2 separate regions of the Homo sapiens genome follow, and region 2 is linked to region 1. Evidence: fine-mapped expression QTL. Tissue or cell type: lung. Region 1 holds a variant in brackets; the other region holds the start of a gene. All regions are shown on one strand. Distances are from middle to middle.

Evidence for each region. PIP is the estimated chance that this variant, and not a neighbour inherited with it, causes the effect.
Region 2: RNF32-DT starts here. The variant in region 1 is fine-mapped to the expression of RNF32-DT in lung (TOPMed, PIP above 0.99).

What each region holds. Positions count from the first base shown.
Region 1 is chr7:156,951,163-156,959,269 of GRCh38, reverse strand. NOM1 (nucleolar protein with MIF4G domain 1) reads right to left here. Exons shown (of 11, transcript NM_138400.2): 2 at 6,672-6,796; 3 at 4,972-5,167. Among named protein-coding and RNA genes, the nearest start is that of NOM1, 5.5 kb to the right of the region's middle. The variant C/G (reference allele first, on the strand shown) is at 4,636.
Region 2 is chr7:156,636,351-156,644,457 of GRCh38, reverse strand. It overlaps RNF32-DT (RNF32 divergent transcript), which reads left to right and starts at 3,923. Exons shown (of 4, transcript NR_026865.2): 1 at 3,923-5,510. RNF32 (ring finger protein 32) reads right to left here and starts at 3,684. Exons shown (of 9, transcript NM_030936.4): 1 at 3,647-3,684; 2 at 566-657. The coding sequence starts at 580. RefSeq lists a silencer at 3,784-4,093 and an enhancer at 3,662-4,253.

The DNA of each region.
Region 1 (8,107 bases):
TTAGCCGGGCGTGGTGGCATATGCCTGTAATCCCAGCTGCTTGGGAGGCTGAGGCAAGAGAATCGCTTGAACCCAGGAGATGGAGGTTGCAGTGAGCTGAGATTGCGCCACTGTACTCCAGCCTGGGCGACAGAGCAAGACTCTGTGTAAAAAAAAAAAAAAAGTTCCACTACCTAACAATATTCATTTCTTAAAAGATTTTTTTGCAGATTTTTACCCCAAATTCATTTCTTACAAGGAAGCAATACGAGTGATTTCTAAAACAGATAAACGCAACACATTCTGAATATCAGAGGTTGCCAAATAGACAGGTACTTAATAATCTCTGGAAGGGCTCCAGGTGGCACGGAGGAGACGCCCTACTTTCCCAGGGCTGAGTCTCTGGCACTAAGGTAGCTTGTGAATACACTCACTTGGCTCAGCCAGTGGTTTGAGGGGCACTGGGCCCTGATGGGGACCAGCAGGTAAACCAGACACTGCCCTGAGGGGCGGAAGTGGGGCCAGGAACTGCCGGGCCTGGTGGAGCTAAGCAAGGCCTAAGTGTTCTCCTTGTGCTGTTCTGGTACATTTTATCCCGAATTCCGTAACTGTGGACTGAAGGATGAGAAGACCTGCATGTGGGTCTGTGTGGTCTTCAGCAAGTTCCTGGAACCCTGTTTTTTCACTGTGTAAAAGAGAGATAATAAAACTTGAAGGCAGAAAACAGTCGTTTTCAGTCTTGCTGGCAACACTACCGTGTCATCATTTTCCGTCAAATCTCAACTTAAGCTGGGACTGGAGGGAGAAGGCGGAAGCAGGGACATGGTGGTGACAAAGAGTGACCCCCACAGCCCAGCCAGGAGACGATGGCCTAAATAACGCAGCTGCGCTGGACCAGGGATGAAGGGCCTGGGTAACACAGCAACGCATGGCAGTGTGTGACACCGGCTGTAAAAGCTGAAGGATCTGTGACTCCCAGGTTTCTGGTCTGGGTAACCAGGAACTACGTGAGGGGCAGCAAGCTAGTGGGGCTGGACAAGACCAGCTCAGGGGTTATTAAGCTTCAACAGGGGCCATCCAGACAGGACTGGATGGAGATCTAAGGGTGTCAGTGAAAATCGCAGGCAAGGCTGAGATCCACCAGACAGTCTTGAGTGTATGGGGAAGTACACAGACATCATTGCTGGACTGCAAAGAAATCAACGCTAGAAGAATCCAGAGAAAGGCAACAGACTGGCGGGAGGCCACAGTGACTTCCTGGAGGCCAGCTCTGATGGACTGGATATACACTTCAGTTTGTAAAGACCTGAGACTTAACCAAGCCAACCTGTAGTTTCCATTCAAGCCCCTTCAATGAAGATAAACTGGAAGACACATTCTATTATGGCAACCATGTTATAGTCAAATATAATTTTTAAAAGTAAATTAGAATTCTGCAGACGTCAATAAAAATTTAGGCATAAAACATATTCATGTATATTTTCTTTTTCTTTTTTTTTTTTTTTTTTTTTTTTTTGAGACGGAGTCTCGCTCTGTCGCCCAGGCTGGAGTGCAGTGGTGCGATCTCGGCTCACTGCAAGCTCCGCCTGCTGGGTTCACGCCATCCTCCTGCCTCAGCCTCCCGAGTAGCAGGGACTATAGGCACCTGCCACCATGCCTGGCTAATTTTTTGTATTTTTAGTAGAAACGGGGTTTCACCATGTTAGCCAGGATGGTCTCAATCTCCTGACCTCATGATCCACCCGCCTCGGCCTCCCAAAGTGCTAGGATTACAGGCGTGAGCCACCACACCCGGCTGTATGTTTTCAATTATGTATATTACATCAAAATTTCTCAAAATTCTAAATCTGAAGTTCCATTTAATGTCTTCAAAATAAAATATAACAGCATAACATTTAAGAATATAAGTAAAATTCACGTTGGTAAAGTTATTCAAGCACATCCTGTACGTTAACTCTGATGTGGAAATTTTAACATGAATCTACATAGATTGGGTTTTTGAGTTTTAAAGGACTTACAGAAGCAATTCAGCAGCTGACACCATCGTCTTTAACACAGAATGTTTTTCTCGGTACAGGACTGAAAGCAGCTGAATGGAGCCAGCACCCTGAAAGCTCATCACACGCTGGCAGAAGTTTCTGTGGATGTCATTAACTAAAGTACTGTAATGACTTCCCTTCGGAACAAGTCATTTCATTGTCCTTCATGCAATTAGCAAAGGTTTAAATGAAAGTAGGCCCAATTATCTCATGTTTTCCAATCAAGTAAATTCCTGATGTGCTGTGGGTGGTCACGGTCTGTGGCTTTTCCTGTAACTCACTGAGATACTGCCTATACTAAGATCATTCTGATGATTAAGTCAGCTGAAGCATACCAGTGTCCTCTAGGAGGACAGGGAGGTACCAAGAAAGTCACAGAATGGCCCTGATTATGGTAATCACAGGGCCCAGGAATGGCACCCAGTGATTCCATCACTTTGTAATGACAAGAAAACAGACTCCCACATGCTCATACATGAAAATGAGGACAGCTCTTAGAAATAAAAAATAACAAGAGGGTTCCCAAAGCAGCTGGTGCAGATTTTCATATCTGAGATGACCCATGTAGCTCAGAAGAGTCCCGCACTCAGATGCTCAGGCCTGTGCCCCTCTCTCCAGCCCTCAGCTTCCTAATGCCCCACAGGCCTTTCAAAAAGCTGCCACCATGCAACTACTGCTAGACATGGAAAAATGTGGATCAGAACATTATCTAGCAACAACAAAGAAATCAGCAGTGGTAGGAAAAGCCAGCCAGAGGAAGAACAGAATTAAAACACGAAAATCTCCTTCTGTACATAAATAATGAGCCTTCAATGAGCGCTTATTGTGGGCCAGCTCTTTCCTATGCCTATTACATGAACTAACTCGTTGACCTTAACGACTGGACACAGGAAGACTCGGAGGCACAAGTTCATCTAAGTGACACAGACCGTGCGCGTTACAGCATGTTTTGTACTCAGGCAGCATCTCCACCCACCCCATGCCGCCTTCAGCACAGAAGCCCCAGTGACAAGAAGGCTACTTCATTTTGGCAAATCCGTGCATCTTTTTTTTTTTTTTGAGACTGAGTCTCGCTCTGTCACCCAGGCTGGAGTGCAGTGACGCGATCTCGGCTCACTGCAAACTCCGCCTGCTGGGTTCACGCCATTCTCCTGCCTCAGTCTCCGGAGTAGCTGGGACTTCAGGCGCCCGCCACCATGCCTGGCTAATTTTTTTTTGTATTTTTAGTAGAGACGGGGTTTCACCTTTTTGGCCAGGCTGGTCTCGATCTCCTGACCTCGTGATCCACCCGCCTCGGCCTCCCAAAGTGCTGGGATTACACGAGTGAGCCACCGCGCCCGGCCGGCAAATATGTGCATCTTAAAGCAAGCTTTGGAGAGCCCCACTTGGTAAGACTCTAAATAACTGTTAAGATTATAATTGAGAGAAAGTAATATAAAAATGAAATGAATGTGACTAGCATTGCAGTAGAAAGCATGCTTGCCTAGGAGCCCAGAAAACAAGTTCTGTGTACTTTTAACAAGACGTGATCTTGGGAATTTCACATAGCGCTTCAGCGGCTTTGCCTGCTGCACTGCAAAGCAAGCTTCAGTAAAGGTCTGCCCTGATCTCACCGGGACACTTTAGGATTAAAGGTGAGGAGGAGACGAAAGTATATAAACGTACACCAGGTAATTAGACTTTTAGGGATGCTGTGCTGCTGTGGCCTATTTTTTGGAGTAGAGCTGTCAGAAGGCAAAAAACTAAGAGAACCACCATTAAAAGAGACTATCATTTAAAGATCCAAATGGGTTAAACACTGCATTTGCATGTAAATACTGTATCACGGGAAAACTAAGCCTCACTGACCCAACCCTCCATTCGTTCACCAACCTCACAACAATCTCCTTTAGTTGGACGGATTTACTTCAACACATCTGAAATCAGCTACCTTGGGGGAACTGGGATACTGACTGGGAGTGTTATGACTTTCCTGTATTCAATTAAGAGAGAACAGGCCCAGAAGAGGGCAGTGACTGTGGAACCAAGGCCATCACCAAAGAGCCTCTCTGACTTTAACCACAAGGGTTGTGGAGCAAGAAGAATACGAAAGGGATGTGGGGGTGGGGTGGACATTTACTTAGCACCTGTCGGGTGCCAGATGCTTTCTGTACACTGTTCAGTTCAATCCCAACAAAAGCCCACTTCACTGATGAGAAAGGGCCATGACACAGAAAGGGCACCAGGTCTCCCTGAACATGTCCAGGCAGTTCCATGCCCCAGTGCTCTCACATCTCCCATCAATACCAACACCTCAGTAGTGAGACCACACCAACCATTATCTTCCAAACATCTGAAATAAATCAGTGTTAAGGGAGAAGTGCAAAGGAAATGAAGGCACGTCTGAGATGTCAGTCGAGAAGAAAATTAACTAACATAAAAGACATGCTAGGCTGGACAGAACAGGGCTGGGCATGGCAGCTCCCGCCTGTAATCCCAACACATTGGGACGCCAAAGCAGGAGGATCACTGGAGCCCAGGAATTTGACACCAGCCTGGGCAACAGAGTGAGACTCCACTTCTGCTCCCACCAAAACAATTAGCCAGGCCTGGTGGTGTGCGCCTGCAGTTCCAGCTA[C/G]TCTGGAGGATGAGGTGGGAGGATCACTCGAGTCTGCAGCTGTGATCGTGCCACTGCACTCCAGCCTAGACGACAGAGCGAGACCCTGTCTCAAAAAAAAAAAAAAAAAAAAGAATGGACAGAACAAAAAAGCAAAGTTAAGCAAAATCAAGTAATCAAGTACTTCCTGAATGCTCTTTACAACTACATGACATAGACAATAGAGTATTTATTCACAACAAAAAGGAATCGACACAAGAACCACCCACAGCACACAATTACGCACTTATCAAGCCTATCATTAAAATAATCACCATGAGACACTAGTGACAGCCTGGAGAAAAGGTACAACTGTACCTCGATTCCAACTGTGTGGTGAAGGATGCTGACTAAGAGAACATGCTCCATCATCAGTCTGCTGGGCATGGCCGAGGCAGTGACGCAGGCACCCATGAGAGCGGAGGTCAGGGTGTCATTCATGTCCTTTCTGCTGTGGGCCATGTACAGTTCCTCCAGCTGCCCACTGATGGAAGCCATGTTGGGTTCACTCAACCTGCAGAGAATTGTAAAGACAGAGAGCAACAATGTTTCCAATTAGGAATTTTCAGTTCAATTTTAAAAAATTAAAGAGTTATCCATACCAACAATATATTCTATTTTTATGTACACTTTTGACCCCTTAACTATTCTTATCTTGCCCCAATAACCCAGCATATATTATTCATAACCAGATAATATTCTGGAATCCCAAAACAATGTAATTGCTGTCTTTACAAGATGAAATGTGGCCACACTGAGGCATACCCTGGATTAAGTCTACAGAAACATACGTGAGGATACTCCCCTGAATATTCTGACCTGATATCCCATAGGCAGGGTCCAGCCTTAGGACGTGTTGTTAGAAAAAATGCTAACGTTTTATTTCTTAGGTGGCACAAAAATCCTTAGTTCCTAACACTAGAAAAGGCTGCTCTGTTTGAACGGGTAGTGGGGACACTACACACATATGTACGTGGAAGGTTACTCACTGTGAACCTGTGCTAATACTGAACTCGACACTGAAACAGAGGTTTATATAAATTCCCAGGATAACAGGAAACAAAAAGCAATACAAGGGGGAAGGGGGTGGGTGAGGCCATGGAGGGGCAGCAGGGGAGAGATGGTGGTGAGTTTTATCTCAATTGCAGCGGTGGTGACTCGAATCTTCATGTGATAAAACTACAGAACTGCCCCGGTGCGGTGACTCATGCCTGTAATCCCAGCACTTTCGGAGGCTGAGGCGGGCGGATCACCTGAGGTCGGGAGTTTGAGACCAGCCTGACCTACATGGAGAAATCCCGTCTCTACTAAAAATACAAAACTAGTTGGCGTGGTGGCGCATGCCTGTAATCCCAGCTACTCAGGAGGCTGAGGCAGGAGAACTGCTTGAACCTGGGAGGTGGAGGCAGAGGTTGCAGTGAGCCGAGATAGCGCCATTGCACTCCAGCCAGTGCAGCAAGAGCAAAAACTCCATCTCAAAACAAAACAAAACAAAACAAAAAAACCTACACAGAATCACATGCACACACACATCCTCAAAACCAAAGAGCTGATGGGCACGTGTAACTGACAAAGCCCCACCTGTATGGTTTCCAATCAGTTTTTTAAATGTTCTGTTCTTAAAGTGGGTAACAACAAAATGCAGACATGAGCAATGAGTAAGGGGGATGGAAGACCAGGTGAATGTGTTTCTGCAGAGAGGGGACATAAGCCAGTCCTTCCAACACTGTCCTTAGACGGACAAAGAACCTCTGCCCCTTTCCTTCCTGCTTCTCAGAATAACAATGTGAGCATTTGGGCTGCTCTCAAACCCTAAAGGGATTCAAAGTAGCCAACAGTCGGGTATCCTCTCCTTCTCGAGGTATGGGTCTCATGGGTCTCGGTGCATCAAGCCAAGAACAGAAAGGATCCAATCGACTGTCCCCATCACTTCTATTTGAATTGCTGGGATAATTCCTACATTTTAGGAAACAGACAACCTCTCTAAGTGACACAGTGTAACAACACTACAAGGTCACCTGTTAAGTAGACCTTTTACATGTTTCTTCAGCCTTTCTAGTTCTTCCTTTTTCTTGAAGTCCACTGTCTCCTCAGCTTGCCTCACATGAGGTGGGATGTACTTTTCACCACTTCCACAAAGACTCTGCTTGAAAAGAGAAATAAATTACAAAAAATTTACACTGACCAAATCCTGTGTTTTTTCTTTGCCATATGTGTATTTAAATATTAAACTTCCAAGAACTGGTGGAAGCTGCTACTGATCATTGCTGCTTAAATACATCAGATTTATTGAGTGCTTAGTATATGGGTAAACATTCCACTCACCAGGCTGTGCCTGTCACTATTCCCATTAATGCTATTAATAATACATTTCACCATCTCGTTTTCCCCTGTGTAGCTCTTCAGACCCAGCTGTGCACCTCTGGTATCTGCTCAACTCCAACAGAGCCCTATCTACTGCGCTTTTGCTCGGCCTTAACTTACTGCAGGCACAGTAGCATACAAGAACCTAAATTAAACAAACCGCTAATTTTGGAGGGAAAGTGTCCTAAAAACAATTTCAAACTTGTTTAAAAGTAATATCTAAGTTTATATGATAAAAATCAAAACCGGCCGGGCACGGTGGCTCATGTCGGTAATCCCAGCACTTTGGGACGCTGAGGCGGGCGGATCACGAGGTCAGGAGATCAAGACCATCCTGGCTAACACAGTGAAACCCCATCTCTACTGAAAATACAAAAAATTAGCCGGGCATGGTGGTGGGCGCCTGTAGTCCCAGCTACTTGGGAGATGAGGCAGGAGAATGGCATGAACCTGGGAGGCGGAGCTTGCAGTGGGCGGAGACTGCACCACTCTACTCCAGCCTAGACGACAGTGCAAGACTCAGTCTCAAAAAAAAAAAATCAAAACCAACTCACTGCTATTTCCTAAATTATCAAGGGGGGTGGTGGTGTTTGCAAATCATTAAGGACACAAACATTTGCAAGGCACGATCCTCACTGCTAGGTAGTTTAAACCTGGTTCAATAAAGAATATTTGTATACATAGAAGCTGAATATTTACATACATAGAACTAGTGCGATGTGGGGAGAAGGAAATGCAGGCAATTCCACACAGCTGCCTCCAACCATGAGCTACATGCAAAGGAACGCTGAGATAAAATATGCAAGATGACAGCCCATGAATGCCTTGATTGCTACGTCCTAGATTCTGAACTTTTTTTTTTCTTTGAAACAGAGTCTGGCTCTCTCGCCCAGGCTAGAGTGCAGTAGCGCGATCTCGGCTCAGTGCAACCTCTGCCTCCCTGGTTCAAGCCTCAGCTTCCCAAGTAGCTGGGATTACAGGCGCCTGCCACCACGCCCGGCTGTTTTTTGTATTTTTAGTAATGACGGGGTTTCACCACGTTAGCCAGGCTGGTCTCAAACACCTGACCTCAAATGATCTGCCCCGCCTC
Region 2 (8,107 bases), 310 kb after region 1:
TAATATATCATTTAGAAGAGAACTGAGGCTTCAATACTCAACCTTGATGGCACATACAACCAAATCAAATAGTAAGGAATGCTTGACTCATTGTTACCTAAGTAGGAGCAGACCCTTGTCTCAGCATTTATGTTAACAATACAGGAATATCTTTTCATTTAATTATGAAAGCCTTAATTATAATATGAATAAATTCATTATGACCCATAAACCTGTGCATGCCTAAACAAACCCACGCTGCTTCACTATAATTAAATTAGACTCCAGGCAACTACTAAGGAGACTCCTGCCATTTCAGCTTATGCCTTTTTGTGAAAACTTAATAATTTCCTGTGCAGAATAAAAATCACCAAACAGCTAAGAGATGCTTGCAGTAAATATCGCCAGAGATTGTTTTTCCATTGGCTTGTCCACTGCCCCATGCGACACTTGGCATCGCCCATTCCTGCTGACAATTCCTAGTTCAAGCAGGGTTTGCAAACTAGTTTTTATACTCTCAAATGGCTGAATTAAAATACATTTCATGAGTCAAATAACGTGTATGTTTAAGAAAAGAATAGCGTACCTTATTTTTTAACATGCCGAATTAGGAAAAGTTGTTGCTTGGCTATCACAAATTCTATCATCACATCCTATCACCTTCCTTCTATTCTTCTGCTGCAAAGACGTGGTCAACAGAAAGTCAAAGTTACAGTGCACAGAAAAACCATGAAGTTTGTGAGGATGCTCTGTAAGAGTCTAACAGATCCTGAAGCAGCAGGAATGCCTGCTACAGGGTGGCACTAAGCTACACATTCTGGTTCTGGAGGAAGGGGGTGAACTCAAGTCAGTTATGCTTCGACTCATCCCTGTCCTCAAATAGTTCACCCCTGAGCTCCTGAGGACACATTAATACAAATGGTTAATTACTATGAATTAATCCATTGCTAAATATAACATGATACATAAGTACTACAAAACTTCAGGCTAACACTGGAGACTTGGAAAAACCAGTTAAACTGGCATTTGAAAGATACACAGAGGGAAATGAAGATGGCACATTACAGGTAGGAGGAAAGAACTGGCAGGCTGGAAATCAGCATGATATGCTTATTTTGGGGAGAAAGGGAACAATGAAGAAACTGGAACGCAAGAGGAACACTGGCTAACTTCAGTCTGTCCAGAACACAGAAGTACAGAATATGGGGACAGACCAACTTGAGTTCCAATTGAACTCTACCGCTTTGCTGCGCAAGATACTGGACACAGCTGAGCCCCAGGCTCCTCATCTATAAAGCAGGTATAATAACGCTGGCTTTGCAGGGTTGCCGCAAGGATTAATGAGACAACCTTTGAAGTATCTAAAGTAGGTCTTTTCACACAGAACTTACTCTTGTTATTCTTGCTTCAATTCCCTTCAAAGCTGGTGGAATAATTTGGAATTGGCCCTTTTAGATTTTGGACATGGTGTATTTTATGAAGACAGATGTATTCAAAATATACTGTGATGAGGAGAAATAGAAAGTTATTCAAGTAATCTAGGAACTGGCACAGAAGGCCCTTGAACATATTTCTTCTAATGTTGTTTCCCTATAACGCTGATGAGAAAAAAAATTGATCCCCAGCAGGGGCCACTGTCTGTTTGGAGTTTGCACGTCCTCCCCATGTGCTGTGGGTTTCCTCCAGGTACCCCGGGTTCCTCCCACATCCCAAAGCTGTGCACGTGAGGCTCACTGGGGCGTCCCCGTCTGAGTGAGTGTGAGTGTGCCCTGCCATGGGATGCCGTCCTCTCCAGGACTGTTGCCCGCCTTGGTCCTGAGCTGCCTGGATGGGCTCAGCCCCCTGCCACCCTGAACTGGAATAAGCAGGTTGGAAAATGAAAGGATACAAATTATTGTCAAATAAAAACTCGTAAAGCATACGGTATTCACACAGAGATGCAGGACAATACCCGATGCAGTAAGAAAGGCCCAGCGGGCTGAGAAGTGGCTCCTGTTTGTTTTGAAACTGCATGGTAGGGGGAGGTGCTTCAGAGCTTTGGCTTGGCCAACATTATCTTTAACACAGCCCCTCCACAACCCGGTCACTCATGGATTCACCAGAAATTGGGTAATGATATTTCTTAAATGTAGAGCTCATATGTACTTCAGTGTTTCATATTAGAAGTGCTTTGGTCTTTATTTAGAAGTTTGGCGATGTTTTTGTGACCAGGAATGTGCTGTGGGAACTTTCCTCTTATTTATATCAATTAACCTATGGTGAAACTGGTTTCCTTGTACACTGCATGGCTTAAAGCTCCAGTTTCTAAGAACCTATGGATGATGTTAAGTGAAGACTTACTGTGTTGAGGGCCTAACTCTAAAAATAGAAAGAAATTAATCCAAAATGTATTTCTAAGGACTAACACTTGTATTAAATTACTCCAACCGAAAGAACAAACTCACTAAGGCGTGAGTGGAGAGATAGAAAAGCACAGTGGAACCAAATCTCTGAGATATCCAGGGTTAGAAGTAAAAACGTCAGTCGCTGCTCAAGTCCTGGAGGCTTTGATGATGGTTCTTACTACAGCCCTTTTCTGTTCCCGTTCAATTCTGGCATCAAGAGATGTTTGAAATAAGTTCCACCCTGTATCTCATCAAGACAACTGAACTTGGAGAAATGGTGGAATTTAAAATACTGAAAGATCACTGCCAGAATTTTCTCAGTTCCTGCTTCCAAAATGCCTATAACCTGCAGAAGATACAGTTTGCATCACACTAAAAATGGTCCGGTCATAGCTGCAGTCTGCAATTTAATCTCAAGTTTCTACACAGTAGACCACTGTCATTAATATCAAGGTAAGAGCTTTTAAAACCTATACTCTCTTAAAGTCCTACGGTATCATTAAGTTTTAGAGTTTAAAATTCAGAATTTAAAGGTATTGAAAACCCTTCAAGTACCTACTCCAACTCCACTTTATAAATGAGAAAACCAAATACCAGGTGAGTCCTTCAATATATAATGAGCCTGCGGCACTGGTAGGGTTAGAAACGTAACCCTTGCCCAGTATTGAAAGCTAAGATTAACAGGAACCCGTTGCTTTGTAAATCCCAGTATTAAACGCTCAAGAGGCAGAGCTTGGTGGCAAAAACGATCACTGGGGTGCCAAAGCGAGTAACCTCAGCTAATTAAACACGCTCAATAAAAATACACGAGACCAAGCCTACGACGTAAAGATGCAATCCTACGTAGGGTCTTGGTGTTATCTCCTGCCTTCTGAACCCCGCTGACCGTTTTCTGAGGTTCCACTCATGCAGGAAGCGCGCGGTGACGAGGCTCCAATTCCTCTCAAAGCTGACACCACCCTGCACCTGGGGCCCCTGATGGCAGCCGGTCCTACCGGGTTCTAAAATTACCGACGTGGGATCACTGTTCTAAGGCTTTAGGCAGCCGTAAATTCGTACCCCTCAGATAGAAGGAGCTGTGGAAACTAACCAGGACCCCGAGTCCCCCAAGGAGGCTGCGCGCCGCTACGGGACCCGACCTCGCCTCACAGCTGCGGCCATCGCCGGCCCGGCTCGGAGGAGGCGAAAGCGAGGCCGCGGACGGCCCTCACCCCGAATCCATGGACCCCGCCCGCCTGGCGGGCCACCCTTCTTTCCGTCCCTCCCCCGAAGCCTCTCCGTGCCTCGACTCCTCCGCGAACACCGGAACCCAGGGACGTCTGCCCCTTTTCCCTCAGGCAACTCCCTGGCCGCCCACCGTTGCCGTAGCAACGCCCGCCTCCGCGCTCGCTCCCCGCGGGCTTGCTCACCAGCCCTGCCCCGCCCCGCCCCATACTGCGCATGCTCGCCAGCCCCGCCCGGCCCACATTGCGCATGCTTGCCAACCACGCCCTGTCCACACCACACTGCGCATGCTCGCCGGCCCCCGCCCCGCGCACGGCGTCAGCGTCTAGACGCAGGTGCGTTCCCGTCGAGGCTCGCGCAGCGGGCGTTTTTGGGGATCGCCTGGCGGGGGTGTTCGGGAGCCGCGGGCTGAAGCACGGGGGCGTGCAGGCGCCCAGGCCTCGTGTAGTGAGGGCCGAGCCCCGCGCCGGCTTCGCTGTAGTCCGCAGCCCCCGGCGGCTTTGTGGGCGCAGCCACGCTCCTCAGCCGCCCGCCCACCTGGGCCTGGGCCCCGGTTGTTTCCCTGCGGTGGCTGTGGTCGTTCCCGTTCCAGGGTCTCGAGCGCACCGCCCCTTCGCTGCGCTGTTAGTCGAGGGCAGTTTTCTGGGGGATCCCCCGATCCCCCCGCGCCGCTCAGGCGTCTTGGCTCGCGGAAGCGCAGGCGCCGACTGCCTGGCGTCGTCCGTGACTCCTGGCCCTTCTCTGTGGATCCCTTTGCTTCTCGTTGCGGGTTGTGTTTCCTGCTTCGTGGGCCTGGCCGTTTGCGTTTGGATGCAGGCCCGGGTGAGCCCTGCGTGGCCCGCTGGCCTTTTCCTGCTCCCTAGGTGACTGAGCCGCGTGTGTGACACATCGGAGTGAATTGAGGCAACGCGTTCCTTTCCAGGCTTGCAGCGGGCGGTGTCGTTCACGCTCCTGAGCAGAGCCTTCCGGTGCTTTACTCGACGCCACAAATAGTGCAGGGTTCCTCCCAGGGGCTGTCGCGAGCTAGAACTCTTCCCCGCCCCTGTGAGCTCGGGCTGTTCTTCCTCCTCCGCGTGGCTCACTCCAGCCTCGGATGTTTCCTCGCTGCACAGACCTGCTCGGGAAGACTCGAGAAGGCCACCCCAGGACTCCAGCTCTCCCCGGAAGGGCTTCCCCTCGGATTGCGTCTTGGCCCCTGGAACCCTCCCTCTGTATCCTCTGCTGTTCCTCTCTTGGCCTCCATTTGGGTTGTGGCCTGGATACTCTGGCTCGCTGCTTCCCTTCTCTTAAGGATCACAGCCCTGCACTGCCTGTCGTCCGGTGCCTGGAAACCATTGTATTTTTTGGTCTGATTTTGTAGTTGTTTGAGAACTTAAGTCTGGTCCCTCACACTCCATGCCCAGAAGCAGAAATGAGTAAAGTTTGTTTTATCTTTTCTTAATATGACAATTATTGTGTTGGTTCAACTTATGTTGTACTTTAATTAGAAGAAATTTGGCCGAAAATACAAGGAAAATATACAAATGCAAGTAATTTTTTTTAAACTTCCCTGAAAGCAGGGTCTAAAGAAATTACCAACCAACTTAGACTGGATCTAGAAGAAAAGGAAGGGTCTTTGCAGTCTTAGGACTCTTCCGTTCCGCGACGTAGGTGTTAGGATAACAGCCATAAATGGTTGTAAGACTTTGGGCTCAGATAAGTAGACTTAAGTTCAAATTTTGACTTATTTTACAAGTGTGTGATTTTTGGCAAGCTCATCTTCCTAAACCATGAGCTCCTTATTTGTAAAGGGGACATTAGCCACTCTCCAGCAACAGCCCTGGTACTTCTTCAGTCCTGGGATGGGACGTATGATTAGCCTAAGCGAACCAGAAAATCCAGGCCCGTGACCAGTGACTTGATCAGGGCTGGCGATATATCTAGGTAGGCCAACCAGGTGGACTCAGTATTTTTGTGGGTGCTACTGGAAAATTTATTTAATTCTAACTGAATGTAGAAACAGCAACAGACATGAAATGGCAGTTGTATTGCTGTCTTATCATGAGGTGAGGGCCTGAAGCTATGGTAGCCACCCTGTGAACCTTGGAAGGAGGGTTCTACAGGAACTGGCAGAGCTGAGACTGGGACGCAACCCATGTCCTGGTGACGTATTTGAGTCCTGAGGCTGGCCCTCCTGTTAGTCTTTTCTCTTACTGGCTTCAGCCAGATGGGGTCTGGTTTTCTGTTACTTGCAACAGGAAAAATTGGAATGATATCTATGCATGCTATTACCGCCTTATGGCTGTGGTGAGATTAAAACATGATACTGTGGGTGAACTGCTTAGTACAGTGCCTGCTATTCTTTATGTTGGTTTTAAGGTATTTTTCTTGAACTTTAAAGTTCTAAGAAAAATTACCGTTTTAAAATTCCTACCCTCTGTTCACATGTTTAAATTTTCATGATAGTTTTTCTGTCTGCATGTTTTCTATTCAAAATAAATTGGTCATTCTTCAGTTAGCCACGAAGAATATTGTGAATTTTTTATTTTTAAATTTATTTTTTATTGATACATATTAGATGAACATGTTTTTGGATAACGTGATAATTCGATAAATTCATAAAATCAAATCAGGGTAATTGGGATATCCATCCCCTTAAATATTTATCTTCTATTTACACTAGGAACATTCAAATTATTCTAGCTATTTTGAAATGTGCAATCGATTTGTGTTAAGTATAGGCTTGACTGAAAATTTAACCTTATTGCTTTCTAATTCTTGACAAAAACAAAGCTAACATAGTTGATATTTGAAGAATACATTCATTCTTCAAGATAGTGTGTTCTGTTGAAATGAGTTAGATGATCAGAATGCAACATTCTTGGATAGGGATAATTAAAAATATAGTCAACCTATCTTGTCCCCAAAACCATGTTATCAATGATTTGTATTTTAACATTATGCCTTTTGTTTTAAAAAAGTTTTTTTGTTTTTTTGAGATGGGCCTGAGAAACTGCATGTATACAAAGCATGTTTACATCTTCAGAAAACTGCTATTGAGTACATTCTCCATGGTGCTGTTCAGTGCCATTTGTGTAAGCACCCACATGATTGTTTTAGAATTTCAAAACCACTAATTGAATGTCCTAGGAATAGTGGAGACGGAAGAGAAAATTAGAGGTGCATGATGTTAAGGATGTTGAGGTGCTTAGTCACAAGGAGAAGGGCACCAGTGTACTTGGCTGATTAAGATGCACTTCTGTACTCCACTGTGCTTAAGAAGAAAGCTGCGGGTGGTACTCTAAGAGATCTGTTGTATAAACATTATCACAAAAAGAGTGATGATACCTGTGCTTATCCAAGGAAGAGCAGCCCAAGATGGATGGCAATAGCGGACTATTTAAGTGGAAGACATTGATATGAAGGGAAAATCTTATATTTTGCTTGTGTAGAGCGCAATTCACAGAAAGTGTTCAAATACTAGAATAGGCAGTTGGAGTCCAGCTTGTGGAAGATGGGGTTTTCTTCATGATGACACTAGAGATCATGATATTGGATACTAGTGCTGGCCCTGTATTTTTATTTATTTATTTATTTATTTATTTATTTATTTATTTATTTATTTATTTTGAGACAGAGTCTCTGTTGCCCAGGCTGGAATGCAGTGGCGCCATCTCGGCTCACTGCAACTTCTGCCTCCCAGGATCAAGTAATTCTCCTGTCTTAGCCTCCCGAATAGCTGGGATTACAGGTGCCCGTCACCACGCTTAGCTAATTTTTGTATTTTTTAGTAGAGTCGGGGTTTCGCTATGTTGGCCAGGCTGGTCTTGAACTTCTGACCTCAGGTGATCCGCCTGCCTCGGCCTCCCAAAGTGCTGGGATTACAGGCGTGAACCACCGTGCCTGGCCTATGGATTCTTAATGTATCATACCCATAATATTTGAATTTGCCCACCTGCCTAGTCTCTAAACACTGCACTAATGAAAGCCTAGGCAGGGTCAGAATGGTTCTTAGTTCAATATCCTTCTCACATTTTAGTATCTTAATGCTCTCACATTTCTCCTTTGTTATGTACAAAATATTCTCAAAGCCTACTCAGTGCCTATTTGACTCTTGTCTCTCTTAACACAGTCCTTGACATCTAAAACAAACCTAAGGAGCAGAAATTGGTGGCATGGGGTTCATCTTTAATTTAGTTCTCAATTTTAACCTTCACCAAAACCATCTCTCCATTTATTTTTCTTAATCTTCTGTATTACCTTTAACTTTCTACTCACACTTGTATATTTATTTATTTATTTATTTTTTCTTTCTTTATTATTATTCTTTAAGTTTTAGGGTACATGTGCACAATGTGCAGGTTAGTTACATATGTATACATGTGCCATGCTGGTGCGCTGCACCCACTAACACGTCATCTGGCATGAGGTATATCTCCCAATGCTATCCCTCCTCCCACACTTGTATATTTATTATCAATTTCTATTCCTAACTTGCTGATGTGGTTTGGCTGTGTCCCCACACAAATCTCACCTTGAAT